Homo sapiens: one gene and its partner. The protein of the gene in region 1 interacts with the protein of each later gene in a pairwise test. Each region holds a gene or a part of one and is shown in the gene's direction. Other genes may lie near its edges.

Evidence for each region.
Region 2: the proteins of TSHR (region 1) and SYT1 interact in a two-hybrid assay, tested with the Homo sapiens proteins (one large-scale study listed by BioGRID and IntAct).

Annotation. Positions count from the first base shown.
Region 1 is NC_000014.9:81,143,714-81,147,141, forward strand, and holds the end of TSHR (thyrotropin receptor isoform 1 precursor), read left to right. Parts: coding exon 1-640; 3' UTR 641-2,593; downstream 2,594-3,428. UniProt on the Homo sapiens protein: Receptor for the thyroid-stimulating hormone (TSH) or thyrotropin. Also acts as a receptor for the heterodimeric glycoprotein hormone (GPHA2:GPHB5) or thyrostimulin. The activity of this receptor is mediated by G proteins which activate adenylate cyclase.
Region 2 is NC_000012.12:79,298,195-79,302,029, forward strand, and holds part of SYT1 (synaptotagmin-1), read left to right. Parts: intron 1-1,189; coding exon 1,190-1,357; intron 1,358-3,835. UniProt on the Homo sapiens protein: Calcium sensor that participates in triggering neurotransmitter release at the synapse. May have a regulatory role in the membrane interactions during trafficking of synaptic vesicles at the active zone of the synapse.

The DNA of each region.
Region 1 (3,428 bases):
CGCCCTGCTTCCTTTGGTGGGAATAAGTAGCTATGCCAAAGTCAGTATCTGCCTGCCCATGGACACCGAGACCCCTCTTGCTCTGGCATATATTGTTTTTGTTCTGACGCTCAACATAGTTGCCTTCGTCATCGTCTGCTGCTGTTATGTGAAGATCTACATCACAGTCCGAAATCCGCAGTACAACCCAGGGGACAAAGATACCAAAATTGCCAAGAGGATGGCTGTGTTGATCTTCACCGACTTCATATGCATGGCCCCAATCTCATTCTATGCTCTGTCAGCAATTCTGAACAAGCCTCTCATCACTGTTAGCAACTCCAAAATCTTGCTGGTACTCTTCTATCCACTTAACTCCTGTGCCAATCCATTCCTCTATGCTATTTTCACCAAGGCCTTCCAGAGGGATGTGTTCATCCTACTCAGCAAGTTTGGCATCTGTAAACGCCAGGCTCAGGCATACCGGGGGCAGAGGGTTCCTCCAAAGAACAGCACTGATATTCAGGTTCAAAAGGTTACCCACGAGATGAGGCAGGGTCTCCACAACATGGAAGATGTCTATGAACTGATTGAAAACTCCCATCTAACCCCAAAGAAGCAAGGCCAAATCTCAGAAGAGTATATGCAAACGGTTTTGTAAGTTAACACTACACTACTCACAATGGTAGGGGAACTTACAAAATAATAGTTTCTTGAATATGCATTCCAATCCCATGACACCCCCAACACATAGCTGCCCTCACTCTTGTGCAGGCGATGTTTCAATGTTTCATGGGGCAAGAGTTTATCTCTGGAGAGTGATTAGTATTAACCTAATCATTGCCCCCAAGAAGGAAGTTAGGCTACCAGCATATTTGAATGCCAGGTGAAATCAAAATAATCTACACTATCTAGAAGACTTTCTTGATGCCAAGTCCAGAGATGTCATTGTGTAGGATGTTCAGTAAATATTAACTGAGCTATGTCAATATAGAGCTTCTCAGTTTTGTATAACATTTCATACTAAAGATTCAGCAAATGGAAAATGCTATTAATTTGGTTGGTGACCACAAGATAAAATCAGTCCCACGTTGGCTCAGTTCAACTAGATGTTCCCTGATACAAAGAGAACTTGATTTCCTTAAAACTGAAAAGCCAAACACAGCTAGCTGTCATACAAGAAACAGCTATTATGAGACATGAAGGAGGGTAAGAATTAGCTTTAAGTTTTGTTTTGCTTTGTTTTGTTTTTTAACTCAACCTATTAATCATCTCTTCACAAGAATCCACCTGATGTGACCAAGCTATTATGTGTTGCCTGGAAAAACTGGCAAGATTTCAGCTTATGTGGCCTAGCAAACTAAGAATTGCTCTTCTTGGCCAGCCTCATAGCATAAAAGATGTGAACTCTAGGAAGTCTTTCTGAGTAGCAATAAGTGGGAATTATGGGCAGAGCACACTCAATCCCCTGTTGATTAATAAAACAGGCTGGACACTAATTAACTATGGGACTTAAATCTGTAGAAATGAAGGAGTCCAATAGCTTCTTCCAATTTTAAAACTCTAGTACATCCCTTTCCCTCAAATATATATTTCTAAGATAAAGAGAAAGAAGAGCACTAAGTAAGTAGAATCTGTTTTTCCTATTTTGTAGGGCTGCTGACTCCTAGTCCTTGAAGCCTAGACACATGACCCAGGAAATTTTTCCTTTGTTTCACTTTTGATTATGATGTCTGAGCCAAAAATTCAATTAAGTAAACATACTCGCCTGGATCTGAATCATTCATTTAATTACTAGATCTACCCAGCTGTTATATCAGGCCAAAAACAGATTCGTGTTTATATAAAAGAGTAAACGATGGTTGCAAATTTTGGCTATTTAGAGTTGCTACTTCACTATGAAGAGTCACTTCAAAACACTTCGCTTGTCTTTAGGGATGATTTTTGCCATTTCCAGTCCACGGTATGATACTAAAGCTGTCAAGAGAGGTTTCTTCTTTTCTGAAACTGCCAGCTCTTTCCAGCCCTGTTGATCACTGGACATAAAGCTTCTTTTCCCCAATAATTCTTCTTTACTTAAAATAGTCAGGATCTTTATCTACAGATGTACTCTCCAGGTTACCTGTGATGATAGCCCCCTAATGTCCTGCTAGAAAAGTCTCCAAGCAGAGATGACATTACTTCTGAATGCTCATAAACCACACCATGAAATAAAAGCTCTTTGTTGTTTTAAGATTGTGAAGTGTCGTTAATGGGTCCCCACAGATGGTCCCTGCTGGACTCACCTGGAATCTCTCCACAGCCATACCCACTCATCACTATCATTGAGACCTGCACATCTTAATAGAAATATTATAAACATCGAAAATCATGACTTACCTAGAAGTTCGCTTGTAACTAATGAAATTAAACAAATGTGTTGCCTTTTGTCATGTGTTTCTCTCCTGTGACATTTCAAAATATCACATCTTGATAAATAATGTGTTTCATCTTGAATAGCTGAACTAATTGCTTTGGAAACAGAGTCCTAGAAAAGTGACTTCAACAGAATTGTTACTAAAATTTGCACTCACAACATGAAATAAATTTTCTTCCTATGGAATAATCGTGCCAAGTCCTAGAGTGTTGTTCTTTTTTGTTAATCTGTGAGTTTCTTTCGGGGTTACTATTGTATGTGTTAAAACTGAAGACAAGAAAACTAATTGGCACATTTGCTAATGAATCCATATTAATAAATAAGTTGTTGACTGTCAATTAATAACTTAAATATAACATTGTGTCTTGATCAAAAGTGGTCTTTATGTGGAAAAACTTACTCCTGGTGAACTGAATTATGATTAATTGACAGGGATCACTAAGAGAAAAAACAATAAAACCAAATATATCAAGCAAATGATTGGTATTGACACTAGAAATTTAAATAGTGTGCTAATGAAGACAATAAACCTCTAAGGCCTCAGAGGCCTTATTATTATTCAGAGCTCATGTTATCTAGCACCTTTCAATTATCTGAAGATAAACCCAAATCATTGAGGATAAATGGCCACAGACTAGTCGCAGTGGAGGTCACACAATTCATTCTCTAAAGCTCATGCATGTTTCTCAAAAGGCTGTCTCTTAAAACACCCCCAAAGTTTATTGACTCTTGCTTTAAGGATAATCTACTGCATCAAAGAAGCAGCCAATGAGGAGAGGGTCTTACAGGGCAGCACCATGAGAGTGGCAATAAAGTAAAAGTCAGGGCAAAAAGAAGAAAACTATAACCACAATACTTTTTTAAAACAATAGAAGTTTGAGAACAAATGCTCCTACTTTAGGAGAAAACTGTTTCATAACATAATTGAGTGATTCTCATTCATTCTGAGTACCTAAAGGGTGCCAGAGAAACTTGTTGGCATCACTGCATTCTGTTTTAAAAGCTATAAAAGTTCCAGCTCCAAGTGGTAGAC
Region 2 (3,835 bases), on another chromosome or scaffold:
TTCAAGGGTTTATCCTTACTCTAAAAAATTTTGTTTCTTTCTTTGAGAGTCAGCTCTTTGGAAGGGTTTATTTTCCATTCCTTCTAAAATGGAAAAAGGATGATGCTTACTTTTTAATCATATCATTTTAATAAAATAATCAGGTTCCAAACAGATGGTAAATAAATGACAGAAAAGAAAAACTCTTTGGAAAACTAAAATTTCTTGTATGTAGATGGCCCAATATTCTTCCTTTTCTTCCCTCCTTAATATACAGAGTTAATTGAGAAATGTTTGCTGAAGCATAAGACAACCATTTACACTGATAAAATAATAGGAAGTGTATGAAAATTGATCAAACCTTTAAGACAAGTCTAAACAATTTCTTAATTAGGTATTTCTACCCAGTTACTGAAGTGTAGCTTACTTGGATTGCACTGCTTTCACTGAATATTAAAAATGTCACTAATAAACATCCCAACCCATAGCATCTGTCCCAGATATATTTGAACAGCTGGAGAATTCATCAGTTCTTGGCCTTTTGCCACCACTCATCCTAAGGCATGTCATACCCAAGAATGAACTTCAAAACCCATATTATAATGCACCTCTTATATTCAAAACATCAATTTCCTAGTCAGTTCTTGTCAATCAGCAAATTATTTTAGGGAGTAGGTGAGGCACTTGTGAATATCATTTCAATCCTTTCAGACTCCTAGCATAGCCTTTAATAAATCATTGCTCCATTGAACTGTGGCATTTAAATGCCTTGAAAGAGTTAATGGAGCATTTGAAATAAGTTATTTGCCCCTCAGTAAGTTACACCCTGACAATACAACTTAAAACAACAATAACAACAAAATATTCTACAAGAAAAACTTACTTATAGTCAAATGCAATTGGCTTGTTTATTGTTTTATTAATCTTAAGGCTTTATAGTATAACTAACAGCAGGATCCATTATTAATAATGCTAACAGCTTCTAGAACTTTGAGATAAGGCAATAAATCACTAAAATTTCCCATTTTCTCTCAAGTAATTTTAGCCTCAAGCAGTTTGTCAAAAGTCTGAATTTAAAAAATAACCAAAAACAAAATTATCTCCCTGTTCTGTTTATGCAACGTAAATATTAAATTAAGCACCATGAACAAGTAACATGTTTTAAGCATTTTTGTGACTGGATATTTTATCCTCATGTCTTTTAATTTAGGTACCATACTCGGAATTGGGTGGCAAAACCCTAGTGATGGCTGTATATGATTTTGATCGTTTCTCTAAGCATGACATCATTGGAGAATTTAAAGTCCCTATGAACACAGTGGATTTTGGCCATGTAACTGAGGAATGGCGTGACCTGCAAAGTGCTGAGAAGGAAGAGGTAAGGGAATTACTAGCATTTCTAACATCACAAGCTGTACTCGCCAGTTGCTGCTCATATAATAACTTATTGAGAAATACTCTTTACAAAGGGGGATGTGGGCCTCTAGTTGTTGACAGCTGATAAAATAGGGTCAAGGGCACTGCACCACCTCGTTAAAAAGTGTACAGGTCTTCTGGGTGTTATCTGAAAGAAGAGAGACATTTGTGTACTGGATCTAGAAACAGCAACCCTGGACACAAACAAACACACATGCCCACAGGAACTCTTTCTAAAAGCTTACAAAAGGCCACACACACTCATAAACTACTGCTTTAAAATGACAACGAAAAATTATTTTATTTCTCATTTTTCCACAATCATTTTGTGTTTTCTGCATAGGTTATGTAGCTATTACACAGAAATAAAATGGTACTTTTTCCTTGATTGTTTCTGCATATCACAGACAGTTCATTGTTTCTCCTAAAGATACGAGAGCATGATTGGTCAAACATCAAATATAATTCACAAAGCCTGATATTAAATCCATTTTTTAAATGACTCACATTTTTATGCTACTCCTCACATTGTTTATTCCCAGTTTTAATAGTTTAGCCCAGTATTTTTCCATGACTTGAAAAGGGAAGTTCAATATGTTTAGTGCATTTAAGCTTCATAATAATCAATTGTATCTGATTATGCGATGCCTGCCTGGCACCAGCATTTTTCTCTGCAAACATTTCAGTAGACCAATACTAGAAAAGCAAACAACCCTTAGCTTCTCCAAATTCCTAAAACAACTCCTTTCGCAGTCACTCTTTAGTTCCTGACGTAAGGCTGTAATTACGCAAGAGATTGCTGACAGCTCAGTCATTTAGGATCTCCAGGTCCCTAGGATTCCCTGGCCTCTTGGGGTCACCAGGGAGATCAGAGAGAACGTCAGGCCTTCAGAGAAACTCAATCAAGTCCATCACCTGGGAATCCTCTCAGCCTAAGGTTTTCTGTGACCAATCTGAGGCTATGAACTTTATACCCCCTATATGATGAAATGAGGTTTTAGAACAGGCCTATTAATTCCCATGCTGAAATTGAACTTTTCACTCTAACATTGCTGTTTGCTATTTGATTTTACAAAATGAGTCAAAAATACTTAAGTTAAACTCTGCTCTTTTTTTTGGAAAAAAGTATGTATACTTATACTTTCCAAAAAAGAGAGCAGAGCTTAAGTATTTTTGTATATAATATTCATGTATACTTATTATATATATATATATATATATATATATATATATATTTACTGTCTCAATATCTAAGAATGTTGACTAACCTTTCTTAGACATTGACACAGATTTAGCCCTACTGTGGATATTCAAGAATACCCAGGAAAAATACCGAGTTTTAAAATTATATGATTTTATGGATAGTTCTTTCCTATAAGTGAACTAATAGTAATGTTACAGACATCTTCATGAAAAAAAAAATTCGATCATTCAGTTACAATGTTTATAATTATTTAACAAAGTAGTGGGATGTTTCATTGACTTTTTTGTTGAAGTGTTTGACTTTGTGTAAATTTTTTGGGTGATAAAGTAGGACCATAAGAAATGTTTATTAACTGATTGGTTTTATTAATTGACTGGTGTTTGGTTGGCTTGTTGGTTGAATATGAGAACATGAACCACTGGTACTTCACAATGCCCACTTGTGCAGGGTGCATGGTTCACACTTGTTACTTTCACCTGGATAATTATCAGGTGGTAATGACATCCAAGATCACACCCAGTGGGTTTCTGAAAAATTGTGCAATGTTTTTTTCTGAGCTAAGGGAATGTGGACCATTGAGCAAGTTTCCTCTTTCAGAAATCTTTGAGTACGAGCAGAGTTTGAAACTTAACACCAGGCTGACGGGTTTCACTCTAGAATCTAGGGGTTTAGGTAAACTGCCCATTCAGAATTTTAACCTAGAAAGTGGCCTAACATGATTTACCCCTTATCTTACTTACCGATGAAATAGAATAGAACATGAAGTACCCAGCATAGAGTCTGGCATATGGTAAATGTTCACTAAGTGAGAGGTCTCTCATACCTTTTTCTTGGTTAATTTTGTGTGTGTGTTCTCTTTCCCCATTTTGTGTGTTCATCTCCTCATTTGTTGTGTCTCTTCCCTCTATTTTTATCTACTTCGCTATCCTTTTTCTCACCATTGCACTTACTGAGTATCTGTAGGAGTTATTAATGGGAAATATTAATTTTATCATTACACTCGTAAAACTCTAGAGACTTTCCTCTTTGATTTCTACTCAGGAATAGAAATTTTTGGTTTTCAGTTAGACTATTTCTCTTTATCAAGGTATAGGTTATAAAAAACTGTATAAGACAGATGTCTAGCTTACAAAGTATCTCTGGATGACTAGACCCAGTTAGAAACTTTTTCATTATAAAGGAAGTAAGATTCCACTTGCATTTTATATCTGAAGAATTACATATTCTCAATGATAT